Linked DNA regions of Homo sapiens. The protein of the gene in region 1 interacts with the protein of each later gene in a biochemical or structural test. Each region holds a gene or a part of one and is shown in the gene's direction. Other genes may lie near its edges.

What was found.
Region 2: the proteins of POLI (region 1) and GAS7 form a complex in vitro, tested with the Homo sapiens proteins (one large-scale study listed by BioGRID).
Region 3: the proteins of POLI (region 1) and MRPL19 form a complex in vitro, tested with the Homo sapiens proteins (one large-scale study listed by BioGRID).
Region 4: the proteins of POLI (region 1) and SYNDIG1 form a complex in vitro, tested with the Homo sapiens proteins (one large-scale study listed by BioGRID).
Region 5: the proteins of POLI (region 1) and MS4A6E form a complex in vitro, tested with the Homo sapiens proteins (one large-scale study listed by BioGRID).
Region 6: the proteins of POLI (region 1) and L3HYPDH form a complex in vitro, tested with the Homo sapiens proteins (one large-scale study listed by BioGRID).
Region 7: the proteins of POLI (region 1) and FHL2 form a complex in vitro, tested with the Homo sapiens proteins (one large-scale study listed by BioGRID).

The regions. Positions count from the first base shown.
Region 1 is NC_000018.10:54,286,517-54,290,016, forward strand, and holds part of POLI (DNA polymerase iota isoform a (long)), read left to right. Parts: intron 1-764; coding exon 765-895; intron 896-3,500. UniProt on the Homo sapiens protein: Error-prone DNA polymerase specifically involved in DNA repair. Plays an important role in translesion synthesis, where the normal high-fidelity DNA polymerases cannot proceed and DNA synthesis stalls. Favors Hoogsteen base-pairing in the active site.
Region 2 is NC_000017.11:9,912,857-9,915,606, reverse strand, and holds part of GAS7 (growth arrest-specific protein 7), read left to right. Parts: 3' UTR 1-2,750. UniProt on the Homo sapiens protein: May play a role in promoting maturation and morphological differentiation of cerebellar neurons.
Region 3 is NC_000002.12:75,649,783-75,653,282, forward strand, and holds part of MRPL19 (large ribosomal subunit protein bL19m), read left to right. Parts: intron 1-526; exon of another isoform or gene 527-1,866; intron 1,867-2,359; coding exon 2,360-2,478; intron 2,479-2,740; coding exon 2,741-2,875; intron 2,876-3,500.
Region 4 is NC_000020.11:24,468,141-24,472,428, forward strand, and holds the start of SYNDIG1 (synapse differentiation-inducing gene protein 1), read left to right. Parts: upstream 1-1,488; 5' UTR 1,489-1,613; intron 1,614-1,732; exon of another isoform or gene 1,733-2,093; intron 2,094-4,288. UniProt on the Homo sapiens protein: May regulate AMPA receptor content at nascent synapses, and have a role in postsynaptic development and maturation.
Region 5 is NC_000011.10:60,325,979-60,330,054, forward strand, and holds the start of MS4A6E (membrane-spanning 4-domains subfamily A member 6E), read left to right. Parts: upstream 1-1,276; 5' UTR 1,277-1,430; intron 1,431-4,076. UniProt on the Homo sapiens protein: May be involved in signal transduction as a component of a multimeric receptor complex.
Region 6 is NC_000014.9:59,477,909-59,481,408, reverse strand, and holds part of L3HYPDH (trans-3-hydroxy-L-proline dehydratase), read left to right. Parts: intron 1-2,057; coding exon 2,058-2,227; intron 2,228-3,500. UniProt on the Homo sapiens protein: Catalyzes the dehydration of trans-3-hydroxy-L-proline to Delta(1)-pyrroline-2-carboxylate (Pyr2C). May be required to degrade trans-3-hydroxy-L-proline from the diet and originating from the degradation of proteins such as collagen-IV that contain it.
Region 7 is NC_000002.12:105,385,552-105,389,051, reverse strand, and holds part of FHL2 (four and a half LIM domains protein 2), read left to right. Parts: intron 1-2,511; 5' UTR 2,512-2,535; coding exon 2,536-2,691; intron 2,692-3,152; exon of another isoform or gene 3,153-3,500. UniProt on the Homo sapiens protein: May function as a molecular transmitter linking various signaling pathways to transcriptional regulation. Negatively regulates the transcriptional repressor E4F1 and may function in cell growth.

The DNA.
Region 1 (3,500 bases):
ATTTTGTAAAAAAAAATCTTTTTTTTGGTAATCTCGTAAGAAAAAAGTTTGAAAAAAGTTCTTTTGTTATTTTTCACTTATTTGCTTTTGTCAGTGAATGATTCAGTTTCTTAAATTTCCTGCTGATTTTAATTTGTTGCCTTTTGGTTAGGTGTGTTGGCTTACGTCTGTAATCCCAGCATTTTGGGAGGCTGAGGTGGGGGGATCACCTGAGGTCAGGAGTTCGAGACCAGCCTGGCCAACATGGCAAAACCACCTCTCTACTAAAAATACAAAAATTAGCCAGGTGTGGTCACACATGCCTGTAGTCCCAGCTACTCAGGAGGCTGAGGCAGGAGAATTGCTTGAACCTGGGAGGTGAAGGTTGCAGTGAGCTGAGATTGTGCCACCACATTCCAGCCTGGGCAACAGAGTGAGACTCCATCTCAAAAAAAAAAAAATTGGTTGCTTTTAGTTTTGTTTTGGATCTGTATTATAAAACAGTTTGTTATGATTGTATCTTATATCTCTTCTATTTCTGACAGCACTCAATTCTGAGTGAGGCCTGAGAGCTTGACATCTAAACATTCAGAGTTTTAGTGCATAGACTTTGTGATGATTATTTGGATACTCAGGGACCTTTATTGCTTACTATTTTGTTATCTGCTATATGTATAATTGTCATATTTAACAAAATCTGGCACCTTTAGATAAATGAGATGTTACATAATTTAAAAAGGTAATACTTTTCTAATTCCTTATTTCCACTTTCTCTTTATTTTTAGAGTATGCCAAGATGGAAGGAAGCCTCATACAGTGAGATTAATAATCCGTCGGTATTCCTCTGAGAAGCACTATGGTCGTGAGAGTCGTCAGTGCCCTATTCCTTCACATGTAATTCAGAAATTAGGGACAGGTATGGACTAGTTTTCCAACAGTTTCATTAGCAGGTTGAACTCTTAAATAAGCCAACTTTGAATGAGAAATATGCTCCAAAAATGGAGGGTCTTCACAGGGAATTAGCAAGCAATTAAATGCTTTTATTCTATCAGGAATTTTCACTGGAAAACTTTGTTGTTTGTTTATTTATTTATTTATTTTTTGAGACAGGGTCTTGCTCTGCACCAAGGCTGAAGTGCAGTGGTGCTGTGATAGCTCACTGCAGCCTTTGTCTCCCAGGCTCAAACAATTCTTCTGCCCCAGCCTCCCGAGTAGCTGGGACAGTAGGTGCATGCTACCAGACCTGGCTAACTTTTTTGATATTTAGGATAGACAGGGTCTCAAACTCCTGAGCTCAAGCAATCCTTCTGCCTCAGCCTCCGAAAGTGCTGGGATTATGGGCATGAGCTACTGCACCTGGCCTTGTTTTTAAATAGATAATTAAGTAAAGAGTCATTTAAGAATGTTTTCCAAGTTCAAAGAGAACAAAACTGTGATAACTGTATAGCATGAGATAACTTCTTTATGGGCATTTAGATTGTTTCCATTTTGAAGAACATTTAAATGCAAGTCATTGGATGGGCATATGCATATGTTTTCATTTATCTTGGGTAGATTTCAAAGAGTGGAATTGCTGGATCATATGGTAACATGAACTGTTTAAGAAGCTGCCAACTTTTTTCCAAAGTTTGTGTATTAATTTACATTTTCATCAACAATATTTGAAGGTTCCAGTTTTTCATATTTTCGCCAATATTTGTATTATCAGTCTCTTTGATTATAGTTGTTCTAGCGGTATATAGTAGTGTGGTTTTTCTTTTATGGATAGTGTTTTTGGTGTTATATGTAAAAATTCTTTGCCTAACTCAAAGGTCACAGATATTTTTTTCTGTTTTCTGTTAGAAGTTTTATAGTTTTTAAGCTTTATGTTTAGGTCCATTTTGAGTTAATTTTTTTATGTGTGGTATACGGTAAGGGTCTTCATTCTTTGCTTTGCATGTGGGTATCCAGTTGTTCCTGCATCATTTGTTGAAGACTATTCTCCACCCACTGAATTACCATGACATCTTTGTCAAAAATTAATTGACCATAAATATAAGAGTTTATTTCCTGACTTTCTTGTTTCATTGGTCTATATGTTTATCCTTAACACTGATTCCACCCTGTGGTGGTCTCTGCTGCTCTGTTTATTTTTCTGTAGTCTTTTTTTTTTTCCGTTTTTTCTTACAAAGTGGATAATTTGTATTGAGCTGCCTGTAAGTTCTCTGATTCATCTGTCATCTCATAACCGCTGTTGCCCCTGTAGTGATTTGTTGGTTTTGGTTACTGTACTTTTTAACTCTAGAATTTCTGTTTGTCTTTTGTTTATATGTTTGGTTTTGTTTCTTTATCAAGATTCTCCTTTTTTTGTAGTCATTATATTTTACTTTAATTCTTTAAACATGGTTGTCTTTAATTCTTTGGACATATCTATAATAATGAATTTGAAGTCTTTGCTAAGTTCACCTCAAAGTCAATTTATGTTAACTGCTTTTCCTCCCAAATATGTATCACACTTTCCTGTTTCTTTGCATGTTTTGAACTATTTTATTGAAAACTGAACCTCATAGATAATGTATTGTAGCAACTCTGGATTTACAATTTTTTCTTGTAGGGTTTTTTCTTTTTTGTTTCCTGTACTTCTTTTTAGGTAACTTGTCTGAACGTAATCTGCAGAATTTACCTCCCCTGTGCTGTGTAGCCACTGATTTCTCTGCTCAAGTGTTTTTTTTTTTTTTTTCCATTCAAATTTTTATTTTAATACTGGCTTCTGGGAAGTTGCCCATGTCTGTATAGTTTCATGGTTAGCCAGTGATTGGCAAAGGTTTTGCTCAAACACTAGAGTCTGGAAGCCGTCTACCTCTGCCAGTGGATAAGTGTATGGGTTGGAGAGGGCTTAAAAAATTTAGGCCATTTTCCCATACTGCCCAAAGTAATTTATAGGTTCAATGCCATCCCCATCAAGCTACCACTAACTTTCTTCACAGAATTGGAAAAAAATACTTTAAATTGCATATGGAACCAAAAATGAGCCCCTATAGCCAAGACAATCCTAAATAAAAAGAACAAAGCTGGAGGCATCATGCTACCTGACTTCAAACTATACTACAAGGCTACAGTAACCAAAACAGCATGGTACTGGCAGAAAAACAGAGATACAGAACAATGGAACAGAACAGAGGCCTCAGAAATAACACCACACATCTACAACCATCTGATCTTTGACAGACCTGACAGAAACAAGCAATGGGGAAAGGATTCCCTATATAATAAATGGTGCTAGGAAAACTGGCTAGCCATATGTAGAAAGTTGAAACTGGATCCCTTCCTTACACCTTATACAAAAGTTAACTCAAGATGGATTAAAGACTTAAATGTTAGAACTGAAATCATAAAAACCCTAGAAGAAAACCTAGGCAATAGCATTTAGTACATAAGCATGGGCAAAGACCTCATGACTAAAACACCAAAAGCAATGGCAACAAAAGCCAAAATTGACAGATGGGACCTAATTAAACTAAAGAGCTTCTGCACAGCAAAAG
Region 2 (2,750 bases), on another chromosome or scaffold:
TGAGAATTGCTTTCGTATAGTTCACATTAGAAAAATGCCTAATATACTAAAGTAAACCAAACGTTGTCACTTTTCTCTTGTTCTTGAAACATTGCAACCAAAAAGGTCAGCACAAAGGCCTTCACCTACGTGAAGACCTCCTGGTAGGATCTGTCCATGGGATGGAGAACCACTCTGTCCAGATCTGGGGTTGGGTCATGACACCAGCTACCAATTTTAGAATATTATTTCTTGGTTTCTTTATGAAAAATGGGTGCTAGTGGTAATTGCTTTGTGGCTTAGTAAACTACTCTGTGGATGATTTCCAAACATTCAAAGCCAATAGCCTTGTTATTAACAAGATATTTTGAGTACAATATGGCTCATTGACTTTTCCATTACATCTGAGGATTCCAGAGTCCTCTGTTCATCCCTGGGATAGAGTGAGCCCTCTTGCGTCTTCCAGGGTAGCTCAGGTTGGCCCAGTTTGGGCCAGTCCATTTTTGGAGGTCACTCTTTCCCCCCTCATCCCCTCACCTCCTTCTCTTTACCCCCTTCACGTACTTCCTTTCTTTCTTCCCTCTGTTATTCATTCATCAAGCAGGTTAAAGCCATTGTGCTAAGATCTAATCTGAGGACACTATAATGGCCCTGTCGTCAGGGAAGCCCGTGATCGCTCGTTTTCAGGGGTCTTACCGGTCAGCAACCTTGGCATTGATACATAGGCACTCTACAGAATTTAAGTTTTCAGAGGTAAGTCTGTTGTTCTGATTAATCTGCATTCATTCAGCGAATGCTCAAGACAAGCCAGGCATGCTGAGAAGCGGCGCTCTAGTTGTATGTAAGATGGGCATTCCTCTGCTCTCCTCTATTCTCCATGTCGACTGAGAAGAGTATAATAAGAACATTGTACCCTCTCCACACTTAACCCTCTGGGATTCTTTATTATAATATAAACCACCGTCGTGAGGCATTTACCTGTTGGATGGAAGGTAGACAGCAACAAGATTTTAATCACCTGGTCACCAGACCCTCACGGCCCATATCCAATTCGAATTTCAGAAATTTCTCTGTTTGCTTTAAATAACTCTTTACAAATAAGGGTCGGGCACGGTGGCTCACGCCTGTAATCCCAGCTCTTTGGGAGGCCGAGGTGGGCAGATCACGAGGTCAGGAGATCGAGACCATCCTGGCTAACATGGTGAAACCCCGTCTCTGCTAAAAATACAAAAAATTAGCCAGATGTGGTGGTGCACACCTGTAGTCCCAACTATTCGGCAGGCTGAGGCAGTAGAATCGCTTGAACCTGGGAGGCGGAGATTGCAGTGAACCAAGATCGGGCCACTGCACTCCAGCTTGGGTGACAGAGCAAGACTCCATCTCAAAAAAATTATAAATAACTCTTTGCAAATAGGAAAGTGAAGCTCAAGGGTAACCAGTGAGGCTATGAAATTGCCAGTGAATTAAGACCAGGGCTAGAGTCAACAGTCCAGAACCCCTATCCGTATGAACAGGGGCCCGTTTCTGGTTGAAATCAAGGTTAGGATGCAACTGAGAAAATAAAAGACTGCACTTTGGAGAGGCAAGCACGCTATCCGGGTTGTTGTTTTGTTTTATGTCTTGGTGCTTAGGTGAGGACTTAGCTGGGTTTATTCAAAGTGGGCGGGTCTGGGCTATTCTTGAGAATGTCCCTTCCATTTCTGAGAACAAGTCAGCCCCTTCTACCTGCCTCCACCCAGGAGACTGATGCACAAGATCTGTTTGTGAAAGCCTGATTTAAAAAGAAAAAAAAAATTCCTTAAGCCAAATGGTGTTCCAAGTTGGTTGCTGTGACAACCTCCAGGAAGAGCCACTTGTTACCCTCTATTCTTTCTAGTGCTTTCAGTCAGTGGCAACACATAGGCCCCTTGGACCGTGGGGATGGCGGCCCTGAGATTCTGTCAGTGGGACCACCCTGGGCCTCCTTTCTACCTCCACTCAGCACCCTGTTGGCCAAGGAGAATTTCTGCGGTGGGAGGCAGTGCTCTGCTAGTCAGGATTGATAAACAGCTGGGCACACCGAAACAGTGTACCAACGAATTCACCAACCAGGGGTTTCTTTCCCTACCCTTTGTGAAAACCAATCAATTACTAGATGAGTGGATGGATGCAGAAAAATCTGGGCTGAGCCAAAGTCCCTTTTGGAAATACAAGCCATAACATTCGAAGGACATCAGCGACCTTGGCTTGTTTAGGTGATTTTACTTCCAGCTGCAGGTAGTCTTGACAAGGAGTGTTTAAACAGAAGGCTCAAGATGCATTCCTTGTGTAGGTCGGAGAGAGCACTTCTAATGTTAAGTGGGGTACAGATCAGCTGCCCCCCCACGTAGCCTGGACATCGTCTTATCCCCATAATCCTTGCCATCCCTACAAGGCCCATCGCCACCACCTTTTCCCAGGTTTATTGAGGTATGATTGACATCCAGTAAAATTCACCCTTTGGAAATATACAGCTCTGTGAATTTTGACAAATTTAGTGTCTTGTGACCATCACCAAGATCAACCTGTTTTTAACCCTCCAAAAAATTCCCTTCTCCTGCCCTCTTTCCCTGGCAACCCTGATTGATTATCTGATCCTATAATTTTGCCTTTTCTAGAATGTCATATAAATGGAGTCACACTGATGTCGCCTTTTGAGTCTGGCATCTTTCCCTCAGCTTAATGCTTTTGAGTCATTCATGATGTGTGCGTGTGGTTTGTTCCTTCTCCTTGCCGGGAAGTATTTCATTGCA
Region 3 (3,500 bases), on another chromosome or scaffold:
CCATGCCTGGCTATTTTAAAAATTTTTTTGTTGTAGAATGAGGTCTCACTATGTTGCCTAGGCTGGTCTGGAACTCCTGGGCTCAAACGATCTACCCTCCTCGGCCTCCCAAGTGTTGGGATAACAGACGTAAGCTACCACACCTGGCTGACATTTTCAAATGGTTCAGAAAAAAATGATATGTGTATATAAAGCAAATATAGCAAAATTTTAGCAGTTGGTAAAAGTGGATGAAAGATCTACAGGTGTTCATTGTATTACTATTTTTTGGTAGGCTTTAAAATTTTCAAAGTAGAAAATTGAGGAAGAGAAAGAAATTCATGGGAATAATCACCAAATTTAGGATAGTAATGAACTATCCTAAATACACAGGGGCTTCCACAATATTGATAATTTATTTCTTGAGGTGGGTGGTAAAGACATGAATATTCATTGTACTGTCATTTATACTTTTTATGTAGATTAAATATTTCATAATGAGCTTAAAATCAGTTAAAGAAGAAAAAAAGAAGATTATTATTTTTTAAGCAAAAGGATTTCACCTTTGTAAGACTTACACAATTTTCACATAGCTTCATTTCTACAATCACAACAATCCTGAGGTAAACAGGCAGGGTCTAATCATTCTCTTTTTACAGAGGGAGAACCAGCAACTTAGGGAAATCAAAACGGGGACACTAACAGGATTTCTGTGGAAATTTAAGTAAATGAGAATTTATGGTGAATTTTTTATTCTAAAACGAATACCTCACCTTGGCCAAAATGGGACATTACCCAAGGTCCCCTACTAGGCCAGAGGAGAAAAGGAAGGACTTACCTCCTACAGAGGCACAAACAAGGCAGACTAGGACCCAGCAGTTGCCTAAGGCCCAAGGGTCTCCAGTTAGGAGAATGTGAAATGCAGGGATGTGAGACTGGCCTAAGGTATAGGAAGAGCGGTAAACAGAAGAGAAGAGACGAGGAGGGGGAAAAGCAAGAATTATTAAACGTGGTCAAGGAGCGAAGAGCACTATGAAGCCTCAGGATTTCTTCAAGGGATACTGCTGTGCCAGGTCTAGAGGGCAGAAAGATACAACCACGAGACCCCAGGACTACCAAGCTGATGGGATTACCTAGCCTCTGGACAGCACCTTCTGATTGGAAGCAAGGAAGCACACTAGAAAGGCTGCAGTACAGAAGGCTCAGAGACAGTCAGTAGGGAGTAGAAGGGCCTCTGCTGTTCTGGGAAGATTCTTACAGCATAAACAAGCTCTTACTGTGCCTAAGAGAAAGGGAGAGGGAGGCAAGGAATGTATCATGGCCTTAAGAACTTTCTAGAGGTTCATATTTATTGGCATTTGACCTAGAGTCCTTGCCATGGGCAAGGTGCATCCCTGGGCCATGGATAGGAAAATCAGCATCCTACTTTCTCTTCAGTTCGATCTGTTAATCCACCAACCCAAATCCCTCCCACCCGCACCTGTCATCCAAGGAAGAGAAAATGGTTCAGGGACACGATGTGCTGCAGCTGTGTCTCTGGATTTGTAGGTCTCTCCTCGACTTTTCAGCTCCTACACGATTCCTTGGGGCAGGTGACCAGTGAATGACACCGCATATGTACCTGGCTTAAAGTTACTGACTCGCTGCCACTTGGAGACCTAGCTGTCCTCTGGACTCATCATTGCAATGATTCCATCAAAGGAAGAGCTAGTGCAGTCATATACCATCTCAGTTACTCTTCGTCTGTAGATAGGTGTTACAGTTGTCAGAACCTTCATATTCAAACTGGTCTATAGTCTTGACCAGCAAACACAGCCAACAAGCCTGCAGATGCCCCAGGTCCTTCAGCACCATCTCCAGGGCCATCTTCTCTGATCAGGAAGATCATTTTAAAAGTCAATTTATAATTAGTGATTTATATGTTGATGTCTTTTCTGACATAATTTATTATAGCATGTATAGCTCAGTGTGAGGCCTGTAGTAATGGTTATAGGCTTTGGAGACTGACCAACATACCTACATTTAAATCTTGATTTGACAGATTTATAGCTAATGTAGCAATGGGTTAGTTATTTACCTTTTTCAAGCTTCAGTTTCTTGCTCTGTAAAAAGGAGATGACACCAAACCCACATGGTTGCTAGAAGGATTAATTTATGCTATAGATGTTTCATAAAGCTTTTAACAAAATACCAGGTGAGTACTCAGGAATTGTTAGCTATTTTCATGAGCATTAACAATTTTAGAAATAAGATTGACTTTTATTTAGACAATGAAGAATAAAATACATCAATATCATATTTAATTTCTTTGAAAAGCAACAATTTTTCTTCTAGCAGCCTTTTGAGTTTACTTTTAATTATTTATTTGTATTTTTTACAGGTTCTTGAGTCCTGAATTCATTCCTCGAAGGGGAAGAACAGATCCTCTGAAATTTCAAATAGAAAGAAAAGATATGTTAGAAAGGAGAAAAGTACTCCACATTCCAGAGTTCTATGTTGGTCAGTAAGAGCTGTATGTTTTTATTATTAGTAATTAGGATGGCTAGTTTGTGATTGGATGGTTAGTTTTCTTAAAAAGCAAAAGAAGATTGTTTTTTACATATCTGGGTTATGCTCATATGAAGTATTTATTCCTACATTAAAACATTTAGGAAGTTAAGTTATCTAGAAATGCTATTTGTTTGTTTCTGCATCTTATATAAAGTTTACTTCTCAGCTGGGTGTGCTGAAAAAAAAGTTCACTTCTCTTTTGAATTTGTAGGAAGTATTCTTCGTGTTACTACAGCTGACCCATATGCCAGTGGAAAAATCAGCCAGTTTCTGGGGATTTGCATTCAGAGATCAGGAAGAGGACTTGGAGCTACTTTCATCCTTAGGAATGTTATCGAAGGACAAGGTAAGTTTTATTTCATCATTTTCATTGTCTAGAAAATGTTATCTCAGGATTCCTTTTTGTTTCTGCATCCTGGGATAAGAAATCTGAAATTTGAAAGTAAAAGGAGACTCTGAGGGAAGATGTGGAGCCTGTGGCTTTAGAATGGATTGAGATTTGAAGTTAATGATTAAATATGGTTGATGGACTTCTTTCTCTTGAAGGCTTCTTATGTTATTGGAACAACAGTCATTAGAAGTAGACTTTGCAAACCATGGCAACATCAAAGAGGGGAATAAATTACTATAAAGCAGTATGGGGATATTTGTTTTAGGAGCAAATAACCCATGAGTAAAACTTTAAGACAAACCTTTAATGTCTTCATGAATTACTTGCTCCTAAAATGAATACCCACATTTTACTTTATGTTATGACACAAAACAAAATTATCACTGTCTTATATGACTTGGGAGGAATTTTAAAAAGGCAAAATTGTGTTTATATACTATGCCTAATAGAGGAACAAGGAGTAAAACTCTAGCAAGATTATTAATTAAAATGGCAGGAACAATTACGTTTATCAAGTTGTGTGCTTCATGAAGTTCCAACAACAAAGTATTCTTATTTTCAAAGAAATTGAAAATGTGAA
Region 4 (4,288 bases), on another chromosome or scaffold:
ACTCTCCACCTCAAATGGGTCTAATAGTATCTGCTCAACCTAATGGCTTAGATGGGAAACTGCTTTATTCAGGAAAGGACTCCGGAAAGGTAAGCTGCTTTATTAAAGTGTGGTGGCATGTTCTTCCAAGTTGAGAAGTTCTGCTAGATGGGAGAAATGAACAGTGCCCGTTTCTGAGTGTTCCAGACCACAGCCTTGCAGCTCTGGGGACCTAAAGGAAGAAACATCAGGTGTGTCTCGCGGGGCTGCAGACATGAAGACGGGGATGGAATTCAGGTGATAGTACTGGTTCCACTCATCCGCGCCTCCTTCAAATGCCTCCTTCTGGCACTCTGCATTTCAGCATTCTCTTTGGGCTGCGGAGGCTCCCTAGAAGCCACGTCCCCTGAAAGGAATATAGGAAGGACCTCTTGTTCCTGGCACCACCTTTAACTCCTGCCCCTGCCCACCAGGACACCTGGGCAAGACGCAGCGCAATGGTGGGTTACCAGGCAGGAGGGAGGGCTCTAGGAAGGTTGGGAGCCATGGAACTCTGGAGCTTAACCTTCTCTGACCACCAGTGTACCAGCCTGCGGGTGGCAGGACTGGGGCCTCTGCCTAGTGTTGAAACGGGGGCGCACAGATGCTTTTCTAAATAACTTTTGACCCCCTTTCTGGTAAATCTTTTTTTCAGAGTTGATTCTCTATGAAATCTACACTGCAAACACCACCTCCTCCGCTCCTAGAACGCAGACTGTCTTACCACCGCCCTAGTTTCCTTCCAATTCCAACTGGGGCGGGCCCGCCATGGGCCAACAACAGGCTGGCTCAGGGCTGAGGGGGTCTCTGGAGTCTGAACTCCGCGCCCGCTTGCTCCTCCAGGGCTTAGCTGGTCAGGACTTGAACATTCGCCGGATCCATAAATTGGGTCATTTTTAACCTCAAAACCGAACCGCAGCCTGGGGAGGCCTTTAGGACCGAGGGGAGCCATCCCTTCCTCTAGTCGGGCAGCAAATTCCTGTCCTCCTAGTCCCCCGCAGCTATCCCCCGCCCCCAGCCTCTGTGGCCCTCACATTGTCAGACACTGGCCGCGGGCCACCATCTGGACGCGATCCCCCGCTAGGGCCTCCCTGGTCTGGGCCAAAGTTGGTGGCCACCTTCGCGCGGGCTGCGCCCTCCTTCTCTTCCCTGCCCTCCTCCCCCGGGGCCCGCGCCCGCTGCCTCCAGCACGCGCGTCGGCAGGCTCGGCAAGCGAAGAGGAGCGGCTCGCCCCAGGGCGCCCCTCGCCCAGCCTGCCGGCCAGGCGAGCGCGACGAGAGTCTCCCCGCACCCCTTCCTCTCCCGGGGGCCGAGAGGGTTGGGCTCCGCCCCGGCGCCGCAGCTCCCGACTCCCCGCCGCTCGGGCTGCCGCCGCTGCCCCGCGCCCGGCGCTCGGGGCAGCCGGGGGCGCAGGCGGAGAGCGCAGGGCGGGGAGAGGCGTGGGGAGCAGAGCGGCGCTGAGGGGAGGGCAGAGGAGGAGAGAGCCTGGCAGCGGAGGAGCAGAGGCGGGCGCCGCACCGCCCCGCACGCTCGCTCGCTCGGGAGAGTCGCGGGCGGCCGCTTGGGCGCACTTGCCGGGTCACCTTGTCCCGGAGGTAAGTCCAGACCTCCCGGCCGCGGGGGCGGGCGGAGGGGCCCGCAGTGGGCGGGGTCGCGGCAGGGGCCGCGAGCTGGCGGCGGGAGCTGGAGGCTGCCCTGCGCTGGCGGGTGTCCTAGTCCTGGCTCCGCCTCGGAGCGCGCAGACCCGGCGGCGGCGTGGCGCCCGCGGTAAGTCCGGGTGGTCGCCGCGACGAGACTTGGGAGACACGGGGTCGCAGGGCGGGAGGGGGAGCTGAGCCGGCAGAGAAAATGCCCAGGAAGGGGTCGATGCTGGCCTGGGCTGCACCTTGGTGCCTTGCCACCCCGGGAGACGCGAAGGGGCTGCTGTGCGAATTCGATGGGAGCTGGTGAGACCGAGAACTGAGAGCGTAGCGGAGCCAGGCTGCCCAGCAGGGCCATGAGGGCGCGCGGCGGGCCAAGGCTCTGCGGGTTCGGGCTGCCCCTCGGAGTGACCCGAAGGAGACCAGCCAGGGCTGGTGAGCCGGGCGGCCACGGAGCTGGGGACCTAGGTCTGTTTGGGAGTAGGAAGGGAAACAGACTAATTCTCCGAGCGGAGCGGCAGGCAAGGTGCAAGCGCGCTTGGGATGGGGAATCCCGACGGGCGACCGTGGCGGAAGCAGAGACTCCTGGAGCCTCTTTCCTCTAGCCAGGACAAGACCTGCCTTCAAAAGCTGTCTGGCCCCTGGCAGCCGCGACAGCCTGCAGCCCTGGGAGCCACAGCCCTGGCGCCGAGATGGGAGCGAGCACATACGCTTTTTTGGTTCCAATTTGAATCTCGCTTTTTCCTAGTCGTGATTTCTGCCTCTTCATGTGCACTCTCTGGGCAGTGAGGAGGAAGGAATGGCTCACTGGATGAGTTGGGCACTTTTCTTAGGGAAGGGGCTTTGTCCCTATGCGCTTTTTGCAAGACCCTACTAGAGTGGCTCTGGCAGCCGAGCTTTGAGGAGGCGGCCAGAGGGGCCGCTTGGCGTTTCTGAAAGACGAGAGGAAGGGGTCTTCTGGTAGTCCTGTTTTCCTTTGGGGGTTTCGTTGCACGCAGAGGCTTGGGCGCTTGGCACCCAGACTTCAGGTGCGCACAGTCCTCCTGCGACGTCAGATGCGCTGGCGCCGCGGCGCTCCTGGCTCGGACCGATGCCTGCGCCTTCCCTGGCCACGTCCTGGTGTTTAGTGCAGCAGACACCGGCCGAAGGCTTGGCTGATTGGGGGTGTCGAGGGGAGGGGGGCTGGGCGTTACACAGTGGCTCCGTTTTCTGGTTGGAATCAGTTGGTGAGGCGTGCGCGCGCGAGTCCGTGTATCTGTCCGTCTCCCTCCTACAGCCCAGCGTGTTTGGTCTGAGTCCAAAGAAGGAGGTGGTGTGTGTGCTGCGTAGACCTGCGCCTGTGGGGTGAGCAGCCTCATAGCCCCCAGAGCCGGCCAACTTCTCCGTGCTAGGCTGCGACCTCAAGGGCTGCCGCGTCGGGGATCGGAAGTGGTCTTCAAAGAGGGGTCTAGGTCGCGAAATCCTGGCAGCAGCCGAAGTGAAAAGGAGCTGCTAGGAGGCGGGCGGGGGGCAGTCTGATGTCCGTTCTGGCGCGGACAGGAAGAAACTGAAGTCGAATTTTTAGTTGAATTGCGTGCTCTGTGTTTGGCGGTGGTGTGGCCCGTTCTTTTGGAGGTCCACACCACAGGTATGAGGCCTGTGGGCCCTGAGGAAGCGCGATCCCCTTAATTCCTCCCTCCCCTCTCTCTCCACCGCCCGCCCCTTTGCAAGGAGCAAGCCTGACAGTAGCTGATCGGCGCCCTCTCTCACCCTGTCCCCATTTCCTGCCTGAAAACGGAATCCTCATAATCAAGAGGGCCTTGTTAAAAAAAAAAAAAAAAAGGAAAGAAAAGATGGAGAAACCTATTTTTAAACTTTTTTATTATGGAAAATTTCAGTTGTACACAGTGACAGACAGAGAATAGCACTGAAGCTTTGTGTACCCCCCACCCAGTCACCACCTGCAGTTACCTTTGGTAGAGTTTTGGAGGCCACAGAGTTTTGGAAGCCTTGTTTGATGAAGTATTTCAAAACTCATTCCAAAATGCTAAGTATTGGATAGTAGGTTAATTAGCTCCATTCAGTCATGACACATTGTATACGCATATCACAGCATCATTTTGTACCCCATAAACATACACAATTATAATTTGTTAATATCTGATAAAATAAACCAATTCAGTAAAAATACAAAATCACTTTGATGTAAACTTCAAAAAAATAAAAAAACCATTCCAAACTCACTTCACCTCTAAACACATCCCTCTGTATCTCCAGCTGATGACATTTCATTTTATGTTCACCTATCAGAAATGTCAGTTTTTAATAACCCCATTAGAGTATAGGTGATATTAAAATAAAAATGAAGGCCCCCTCCATTCCCATTTTAGGGTAGAAAAGGAAAACCTGCCAACTTTACTTGAGGCGTACAGGGGTGAGATATTGAAGAAGGAAAGACAAGTCCGGATCCTGGGAAGACAGATATGTTAGCAATAGGAACAGACTCATTCTAATTCATGAAGGGCGTGAACACGATTCTGGTTGAGCCATGATAGGCAAGAGAATTTTTTTTGATAAAAACTTTAAAACTCAGTTCAAAAATTATAAGCAATTAATTTCTTCCACATTTAGCATTGAGATAAATTAAAAGT
Region 5 (4,076 bases), on another chromosome or scaffold:
ACATTAGAAGAAATATTGTTAAAATGTGTATGCTGAAGTTTCCCTGACACCTACACAGGTGGGAACTGCACTGCACGAGTGCCAGCAGAGGCAAATTTAACTCACTTGCTGCTCCACCCTTTGCTGGAGGGGCAGCACAGGTGAGCAGGTGCAGGACTCAGGGCAAGCACTTTTGGGTGCCGGCAAGAGCAAACTCCATACCAGTCCCATGGCAGCATCTAGGGAGAGGGTGACCGTGATCTCTGAAGACCCAGAAGAAGTGTTACACTGCCCATTTTAGCTTTGCCATCCAAGGATAGCTTAAGTGTTAATAGCTCAGTGGAGGGTCAGTGTGACAGTGTTTTGCACCTACACTCATGGCACCCAAGTTCTTGTTCAGCATCCAGGAGGAATGAGGTTGCATGAACGAACTGAAGATGGTAAATGCAAGAGATTTTAGTGCTGGTGAAAGTGGCTTTCAGTGGGAAGGGAATATGTAAAGGGGATGGATGGAGCGGGAAGGTAATCTTCCCCTGGAATCTGGCCGAGGACTAGATGCTACACCATCAAGCTGTCCCTCTCATGTCAAGCTGCTTCTGTCTGCCATACAACCATAGTCTTCAACATCCAGCTGCATCTCCTCTCTCTGCTGGCTGAGCCTGGGGTGTTTATGAGCATAGGATGGAGGGTGGGGCAGGATATGGGTGGTTTTGGAAAAGGCGACATTCAAGCAGGAAAACAGGGATGTATGTTCTCACTTTGGGCTGAGTTATCAGGCTTTTTGGCTTGACGGTGGGGCCCTTGCTGGGGACCTGCCTTCTTCTGCACAGAATTTCCCTGCCTCCTATACTTATCAATGCTACTAAAAGCAGTATAAGGATTCAACACAATCCATCTTCACAGAAATATAAAATGAAATGCTAAAATCCACGTGTAATCACAGAAGACCCTGAATAGCCAAAGTAATTCTGAGAAACAAGAACAAAGTTGGAAGCATTATGCTTCTTTATTTAAAAGTATATTATAAAGTTATAGTAATCAAAACAGTATAATACTGGCATAAAAGCAGACATATAAACCAGTGGGACAAAAATATACAGCCCAGAAATAAACCCAAATATATATGGTTTCTATGGTTTGAAGCCTTGAATGTTTGTGTCCTTTCCAAAATGCATGTTGAAACTTAATCTCAAATGCAATAGTTTGGGCCTTTAAGAGGAAATTAGGTCATGATGACTCCTCCCTCATGGATGTAATTAAGGTCCTTATAAAAGAGGCTTCACAAGACATTTGGACTATTTCACCCTTCCATTCATTCCACCATGTGAGGACACAGTTTGTCCTATCTGGAAGATGCAGCAACAAGATACCATCTTGGAAGCAAGCAACGTGACCCTAAGTAGATGCTGAACCTGTGGCACCTTGATCGTGGACTTCTCAGTTCCAAAACTGTGAGAAATAATTTTCTATTTTTTATAATTACCCAGTTTGTGGTATTCTGTTATAGCAGCACAAATGGACTAAGAAAGAAACTGGTACCAATAAGTGGAGTACTGCTGTATCGAACACCTAAAAATGTGGAAGTGGCATTGGAACTGGGTAATGGGTAGAGGCTAGTCTCTAACAGACGATTCTGGTAAGGACTAAGAAGAAGAGAGCTGTAGACAGAACCTCAGTCTTAGAGATTATTTTAGTGGTTGTAATTACAATATCAATTAAAATGTGGGCAGTGAGTGCCATTCTGATGTGGTGTCAGATGAAAATGAGAAATAATTAAAAACTGGAGGGGGCCAGGCGCAGTGGTTCAATGCTTGTAATCCCATTCACTTTGGGAGGCCGAGGTGGGCAGATTACTGGAGGTCAGGAGTTCAAGACCAGTTTGGCTGATATGGTGAAACCTCGTCTCTACCAAAAATACAAAAATTAGCCTGTCATGGTGGTGCACACCTATAATCCCAGCTACTCGGGAGGCTGAGGCTGTAGAATTGCTTGAACCTGGGAGGCGGAAGTTGCCATGAGCCAAGATCGCACCACTACACTCCAGCCTGGGTGACAAAGTGAGACTCCATCTCAAAAAAAAAAAAAAAAAAAAAAAAGTGGATCAAAGGCCATCCTTGTTATCAAGTGGCAAAGAATATGGCTGAATTGTGTCTATGTCCCAGGGTTTTGTGGAAGGCAGAACTTAAAGGCAATGAACTAGGATGTTTGGTGAAATAAATATCTAAGTGAAGTGTTCAGGGAACTGACTGCTTATAATAAAATACGGGAAGAGAGAAATGAATTAAAAGATAAAATGTATAATCAAAAAGTAAGTGAAATTTAAAGATTTAGAAAATTATCAGCCTGGCCATGTGAAGATAAAAGGCTGTTCAAGAAAGAAAATTAAAGGTATGGCCAAGCTACTGTTTAAATAAGAAATATATATGTGTAGGTAGAAGCCAGATACTATTCACTAGAACAGTGGAGGGGTGATCCCAGTGATATTTGGAAGATCTTTGGGGCTCCCATTCCCATTACAGGTGCCAAGTGCTAAGTTTTTATTGACAGATGAATGGATAAACTGTGAGATACACACACACACACACACACACACACACACACTCATATAATTCAGACTTAAAAAAGGAGATCTTGCCATTTGCCACAACATGGAAGATACTGGAGAAACTTATGCTAAGTAAACTTACCCAGACACAGAGACATATTGCACAATCTCATTTATATGTGGAATCTAAAATAACAACAAAACAACTAACAATATAGAATTCAGAGAGATAGAGAGTGAAACTGTGGTTACCAGGGGTAGAAGAAGAGAGAGAGAGAGAAAACTGGTAGGGGAGAGCAGCAGGTCAAAAGATACAAAGTGAAAGATAAGTAGGATGAGCAAATCTAGAGTTCTAATGTACAGTACAAAGACGATAGTTAATAACAAGGTATTGTATTTGGCATTTTTGCTAAATGACTAGATTTTAGCTGCTCTTGCCACACATAGAAATACAAACGAGTGACTATTTGAAATAATAGATATGTTAATTTTTAAATTTTTATTATTATACTTTAAGTTCTGGGATACATGTGCAGAACGTGCAGGTTTGTTACACAGGTATACACGTGCCATGGTGGTTTGCTGCACCCATCAACCCATCGTCTACATTAGGTATTTCTCCTAATGCTATCCCTCCCCTTGCCCCCCACCCCCCGACAGGCCTTGGTGTGTGATGTTCCCCTCCCTGTGCCCATATATTCTCGTTGTTCAATTCCCACTTATGAGTGAGAATATGCAGTGTTTGGTTTTCTGTTCCTGTGTTAGTTTGCTGAGAATGATGGTTTCCAGCTTTATCCATGTCCCTGAAAAGGACATGAACTCATTCTTTTTTATGGCTGCATAGTATTCCATAGTATATATGTGCCACATTTTCTTTATCCAGTCTATCATTGATGGGCATTTGGGTTGGTTGAAGTCTTTGCTATTGTGAATAGTGCTGCGATAAACATACGTGTGTATGTGTCTATATAGCAGAATGATTTATAATCCTTTCAGTATATACCCAGTAATGGGATTGCTGGGTCAAATGGTATTTCAAGTTCTAGGTCCTTGAGGAATCACCACACTGTCTTCCACAATGGTTGAATTAATTTACACTCCCACCAACAGTGTAAAACAATTCCTATTTCTCCACATCCTCTCCAGCACCTGTTGTTTCCTGACTTTTTAATGATCACTATTCTAATTGGCATGAGATGGTATCTATTGTGGTTTTGATTTGCATTTCTCTAATTACCAGTGATGATGAGCTTTTTTTCCTATGTTTGTTAGCCATATAAATTTCTTCTTATGAGAATTGTCTGTTCATATCCTTCACCCACTTTTTTTTTTTTTTTTTTTGAGATAGAATATCGTTCAGTCACCCAGGCTGGACTGCTGTGGCACAATCTCAGCTCACTGCTACCTCTGCCTGCTGGGTTCAAGTGATTCTCCTGCCTCAGCCTCCTGAGTAGCTGAGACTACAGGTGCATACCAGCACACCTGACTAATTTGTTGTATTTTTAGTAGAGATGGGGTTTCACCGTGTTAGCCAGGCTGGTTTTGATCTCCT
Region 6 (3,500 bases), on another chromosome or scaffold:
AGGGAATAATGTAAAGATAGTAAGTAAAACAGTACCTACCTCTCAGGGCTGTAGTAATTAAGGCACTAATGTAATGAATTAAGGGGCTAGTGTATGTAAAGACCTGCCACATAGGAAGTACTCATGGGTGAAATAAATATCTTAATTTTTAATGTTAGTAATTTAGTGATTAAAAAATGAAATAGTCACAGATAATTGGTGGACAAGAGTAACTTTAAAGGAAATTTGGTCCATTTTAAAGAAAAGGAAACTGAAACTCAGTGAGGTGTAGCACCCTACCCAACTGCCCACCCTAAGAAAACCAGACCCAAGATTCTAGAAAGGTTGGGCCAGGGAAATGATTGTAGGCTCAGGGATGACTTCTCCTGAACCAGCTTCCCAATTTCATCCTGGTCCCGGGATTGGTGGCCAATGCCCCATTTAGTTGTTACAATCAAGGGAAGAGGGCAGGCCGACTGAACCCTGGGACCGTCACCTGTGTCTCCTGGTAAGTGCTGATCTTCACCCTCACTTTAGCTTTCCACCTTCCAGCAGTCCCTCATTTCTATCAACTTGCCCATTCTCTTTTCATTAAACTTGCTTTTCATGTTGCGCCAGCATCAAGATAAAGACATTTTTTATTCAGTTTTGTTGTTACAATCCACAGCATGTTTTACTCTTTTGATTATAAACTTGCTCTGTTTTAACACATCATGGGTTAAAAGGGCTTCTGTGGACTAGTGTGGACTAATAGCATACTGATAGCCTTCTGTGGACTGATAGCATACTGATATCTTTGTATGACCTTGTATGAAAACTCAGGAACACAAGATATATTTTCTTTCCCAAAACTTAATTTCTGAAGCTGAAACTCTACTCTGTCCTTTTGGTTCACTTAGCCTCATCACTCCATGTGTTGTCCCCTTTCCTGATATGTGTGAGCAAAGGTTTCTTAAAAGTGCTGTGGCCTTGGAGAGGATGGCACTTCAGTCCTCAGCTTACACAGTTAACCAGCAAAGTGGAGCAGGAGCATTGGCTGCCCCACCCTACCTGGTCCTTGCCCTCTGCACTGCCTCCCCATCCTCTGTTTCTTCACTCCTGCTCCTGTGGTGCCCTGGGGGAAGTTAACACACGTCCTCTCTGCACTAAGGACCTTCAGCCTCCACTCTTCTCAAGGGAGAAAAAATTTATCTCTAGGAGAAATATTTCTCCCTTCAGGACACTCCTTTGCCAACAGATGTCTTTCCCCTGAGAGCTTAGGCTTCCCTAAAATAAAAACATGAAAGACAAGCTTTCTCCCCTGCCATAGGCTTCCCTAAAAGGCAGTGATCACCAAGCTAGCTTAAATTAGGGAAGAGGAAAATTTGAGAAGGGGCGAAATAAACATCACCCAGCCCCCTTTCTTTGGAAATACAGATTCAAGATTTCAAACTACTGACCTTCAGGTGAAACTTTGGGGATGTTGAGACTTAAAATGCTCAAATAAAAACCCTGGTGCAAAATGATGCTGTAGCAGTCAATGATTCTACAATGGCATTTTTCTGTGTTTGCCTGCAGGATACCTTAAGGAGATGAAAACATGTAGATAAGTGTATATAATTTATATAGAAAAATCTTTTATTAAAATTTATGTTTTGACATTACGGCTGAAGAAAATTGATTTGTAAATAGGATCCAAGACCCTCACTATTTTAAACCATCTCTCATAGTACAAGTGGGGAATAGACATTTTCCTTCTTAGTGTTCACAGGGATGCCCTTGGGTTTCCCTCTCTCGGCCTCAGGGGTGTTTCCTAGAAAAGATCCTCAGGGAAGTTAATGAATATGTCTGTATGAGTTAGGGAAAGCATGGCTTTAGTTTATAACTTCTGCAATCATCAAGTTAAAAATAGAATGATGCATCTAGCTATTATTCACTCGATGCTTATTCATTTAAAAAACGGATTTTTACTTCATTATTTTTATGATAGGAAAAGAACATCCCTCTTGAAAAATAAACATATTAAAAATCCTTTGAATTTTATTGCTAAAATACTTATTAACAAACACATCTTCTTTCCAAACACATCTTTTTTTTAGATCTCATGGTGGATGTTCCTGGACATGGAAAGGTGATGGTGGACATTGCATATGGCGGTGCATTTTATGCATTTGTTACTGCTGAAAAGTTAGGACTAGACATTTGTTCTGCAAAGACCAGGGACCTTGTGGATGCAGCGAGTGCAGTGACAGAGGCAGTGAAAGCTCAGGTCAGTAATACTCTGCCTTCATAACCAATTCCCTTCTCTGTGGCATGGAGGAAATATACATTATTATGTCTATAAAGAAAATTAAATGATGTTTAAATTATTAATAGTACTAAGAATAGGGTACTTATTAAAATCTTAGGCTCTAGAGCAAGCTTGTCCCACCCGTGGCCTGTGAGCCACATGCAGCCCAGGATGGCTTTGAATGTGGCCCAACACAAATTTTGTAAACTTTCTTAAAACATTATGAGTTTTTTTGCAATTTTTTTTTAGCTCATCAGCTCTCGTTAGTGTTAGTGTATCTTATGTGTGGCCCAAGACAATTCTTCTCCCAGTGTGGCCCAGAGAAGCCAAAAGATTGGACATTCCTGCTCTAGAGCAAAACTATCTATGAGTTCTAGCTTTACCACTGGTAACGTATATAACCTTGGGCAAGTTACGTAACCTCCATATGCCTCAGTTTTCCTGTCTGCAAAATGGAAATTAAAAAATACCTGCTTTGTAGGGTTGTGAGAATGAAATAAGTCAATACATGTAAAGGACTTAGAGTAGTGTCTGGCCAATAGTAAATGTTCAGTAAATGATAATATTATTTTTTTTGAGACAGGGTCTTGCTCTGTCACCCAGGCTGTAGTGCAGTGGTGTGATCATAGCTTACTGTAACTTCAAATTCCCAGGCTCAAAATGATGCTTCTGCCTCAGCCTCCAGAGTAACTGGGACCACAGGCATGCCCCATCACACCCAGCTAAATCTGTGTTTGTGTGAGTGTGTGTGTGTGTTTATATAGAGACAGGATGTCACTATGTTGCCCAGGATGGCCTCAAACTCCTGGCCTCAAGTGATTCTCCCAGCTCGGCCTCCCAAAGTGTTGGGATTACAGGTGTGAGCCACCACACCTAGCAGTTACTAAATTTAATAATACATACATACTAATATAGTTTATAGTTCCTTAAATGTGTAGAAATATATTTATAGAATTCTGCAAATTTTAAATGCATGTGTGTGGTCATTCTGTTAAACTTGAAAATAATAAATGTAAAATATAGTGTACAGAATAGATTTAAGCCTTTTTCTTATTTCATAGAGAACATTAATTCCTATTATTTTTTTCCTACATTGCTAAGAAGTTACTCAAATAACTACTTAAATAACTCTAGTTTTTACTTGGGAAAGCTAATTTGATAAAATCAGTTTAGATAATAATTCTAGGATATTCTTTCACTTCTAGCACGAGTGAAGCACATTTTACCTTGAAATTGGGACCTATAAATAAAA
Region 7 (3,500 bases), on another chromosome or scaffold:
TTTCCTTGCTTACAGTTGTCAGGATCGTGTATACGCAATAGTACAAAATTACTGTAATCACAAACCAGGCGGCAATATTTTATTTGCATCAGAAGGTCTGATTCTGGCATTTCACTCGCCTATCTTTTGAAGACTGCAAATTGAACCAAGTTTTCTTAGATCCTGTGAACTCTTGCTCAGAGTTACATAGCCAACCAGTGTACCTATTTTTTTTTTTTGAGACGGAGTCTCGCTCTGTTGCCCAGGCTGGGGTGCAGTGGTATCATCTCAGCTCACTGCAACCTCCACTTCCTGGGTTCAAATGATTCTCCTGCCTTAGCGTCCTGAGTAGCTGGGATTACAGGCATGTGCCAGTAAGCCCGGCTAATTTTTTTTTTTTTTTTGTATTTTTAGTAGAGACAGGGTTTCACCATGTTGGCCAGACTGGTCTCAAGCTCCCAACCTCAGGTGATCCACCTGTCTCGGCCTCCCAAAGTGCTGGGATTACAGGCGTGAGTGACTGCACCCAGCCCAGTGTACCTATTTAAGAACAGAGAAAACTTTCCACTTTTAGCAAATGGAATATTGCCATTTATTCCTGAAGAAAATTGTCTGTGTTTTTAATGCCCTATGGCCGTTTCTCCACACCAGCTATTCCTGTGGTAGGCTTTTTCTCTCCAGGATCATTCTAACATGATTTTATAGGAATGGTCATAAGAGGAGGGCCCATCACTTGCTGCTTATTCACACTGCGTATTCATCCTAGAAAAATGCAGTGTGCCGGGCATGGAGACCCCTTATTTTAAACTTTTATTTTAGGTTCGGGGTACATGTGCAGGTTTGTTATACAGGTAAACTCTTGTCACAGGGGTTTGTTGTACATATTATTTCATCACCCAGGTATTAAGCCTAGTACCCAAGTGTTATGTTTTCTGCTCCTCTCTCTCCTGCCATCCTCCCTCCCCGCTCAAGTAGACCCCAGCGTCTGTTGTTTACCTCTTTGTGTTCATGTGTTCCCTCATTTAGCCCTCACTTACAAGTGAGAACATGCAGTATTTGGCTTTCTGTTCCTGCATTAGTTTGCTAAGGATAATGGCCTCCAGCTCCATCCGTGTTCCTGCAAAAGACATGATCTCATTCTTTTTTGTGGCTGCATAGTATTTCATGATGTATATGTACCACATTTTCTTTATCCAATCTGTCATCGCTGGGCATTTAGGTTGATTCCATGTTGTCGGTATTGTGAAGAGTGCTGCAATGAACATTCATGTACATGTGTCTTTATGGTAGAATGATTTGTATTCCTCTGGGTGTATTCCCAGTAATGGGATTGCTGGGTCAAATGGTAGTTCTGTTTTTAGCTCTTGGAGGAATCACCATACTGCTTTCCACAAGGGTTGAACTAATTTACACTCCCACCCACAGTGTATAAATGTTCCCTTTTCTCTGCAACCTCGCCAGTGTCCTGTTCCTGTTGGAAGGGCTTGAGGTGTTGCCCAGAGAGCCACTGACTGCAGCCACTGCATTTCTGACTATTTGATATCATTGTTTTGGGAAGTGAGTCTTTCCATTTATCCTGCTCTCAGGGTACCTGGGCAGCTGCAGGATGATCTTACCCGCAGGGAGCAATGATTCATCCTCAGGGACTTTGGCAGTTTTTCTTGTGCAAGGGCAGCTTGCACTCCCAGGTCAAGGGTATTAGTGCCCTCATTGCATCTAATCTCAGGTTTCCCAGGTCAGATCTCCCTCCCTTTTGCCACTGTGATTTCTTCCTATTCAAATCATGAATCATAAAGAGGAGCTCACGGAAAATCTTTTTATAGAAATGGACGTATTATTTCTATGCCTGCCTTTCTATTTTGGAGGCAGGGAGAAGGGGAAGATGCAAGGCCGGGTCACAGCCGGACAGGATGGGGGCTCTGGTGTCAGCCCTTACCTGCATTTAAAACTGAGATAGCTTTTTCTGACACAGTAAAAAATAATTTGTGCTTTTCAAGAAGTGGAATGTGACCAGGCGTGATGGCTCACGCCTGTAATCTCAGCAGTTTGGGAGGCTGAGGTGGGCAGATCACCCGAGGTCAGGAGTTTGAGACCAGCCTAGCCAACATGGTAAAACCCTGTCTCTACTAAAAATATAAAAGTTAGCTGGGTGTGGTGGCAGGTGCCTGTAATCTCAGCTACTTGGGAGGCTGAGGCAGGAGAATCACTTGAACCTGGGAGGCGGAGGTTGCAGTGAGCCGAGATCGCACCACTGCACTCCAGCCTGGGCAAAAGAACAAGACTCTGTCTCCAAAAAAAAAAAAAAAAAAAAAAAAAGTGGAATGCATTCAAACACAAAACCGCCCTAGCTAATGAAAAAAGGTGTTATCATTAAAAATTATGACCGATTAAAGGGTGAGTTTTAATTATTCATCCAGAGGAATTAGCCACCTTTCGGCTAAAGATGACAGACAGTGGGACAGTTAATGCCTTTGCGTGCACCCCTTTCAGAGAGTGCTTAATGGGACTTGGATTTTCTTTTCTTTTTGATAGGTTGCTGAAAAGCCAGGAGTCAAAATGACTGAGCGCTTTGACTGCCACCATTGCAACGAATCTCTCTTTGGCAAGAAGTACATCCTGCGGGAGGAGAGCCCCTACTGCGTGGTGTGCTTTGAGACCCTGTTCGCCAACACCTGCGAGGAGTGTGGGAAGCCCATCGGCTGTGACTGCAAGGTACCTGCTGCGGGCCTCTGCGGGTCCCCGGCGCTCCCCTAGGAAACACGGGTTTCTCTGTGGTTTGTGCTGAAGCCCTGATCCACCACTGAAGTCTGTCTCTTGAGCCCCCTCTGAGGGGCGTGGACCCTGCGTGTAGCCTTTCGGAAGCTTCTTCCCTCTAGCGAATGTGATCTCTGCCCACAAGCACTGGGTGAGGGCCTTGCCAGGACTTTTGTGCTTAGTATCTCTAAGTACATTTTCTGTATTCTAGCAATTAGTGCCCTTATCTAACTACCCAGCTGCCTACCAATACTGGAACTTTCTTAAGGGTGGTGCTCTCTTCCTCTTGTCTGTTTGCCCCGTGGTGAGTAACGTGGAGCAGGTGCTGTGCTCAGTCAATATTTGATGAATGAATGTGTACATGAGAGAACCAGAGTTGGTTCCTGGATAAATGGGCACATAAAAGCACAAAGTCCTTGGAAGATTGTGAGCTCTTTTCCTTTAATGAGAGAAGGACAGGATTTGTATTGTTTCCTTTCAATGGGGAAATGTGTTCATGGCTCTCCTGGTATGTCACAGCGTGGTTCAGCAAAGACCACTGGTCACTTGTACCAACTGCCCCGTGGTTGAGGGTGGTGAACCCTGACCTGCGCTTCTCAGCAGACTCTTGTTCCAACCTGGATTGCTGAAGGACACCCTGGGGGACCCATCCATAGCTCTGAACTCTCTGATACCTTCACCCGCAAACGGCTTCTAAAACACTCCAGTGAAACCCCTCATGTGGCTGTCATCCTGAGTGCCGTGAAACTGGCTACAAAATGGGATTC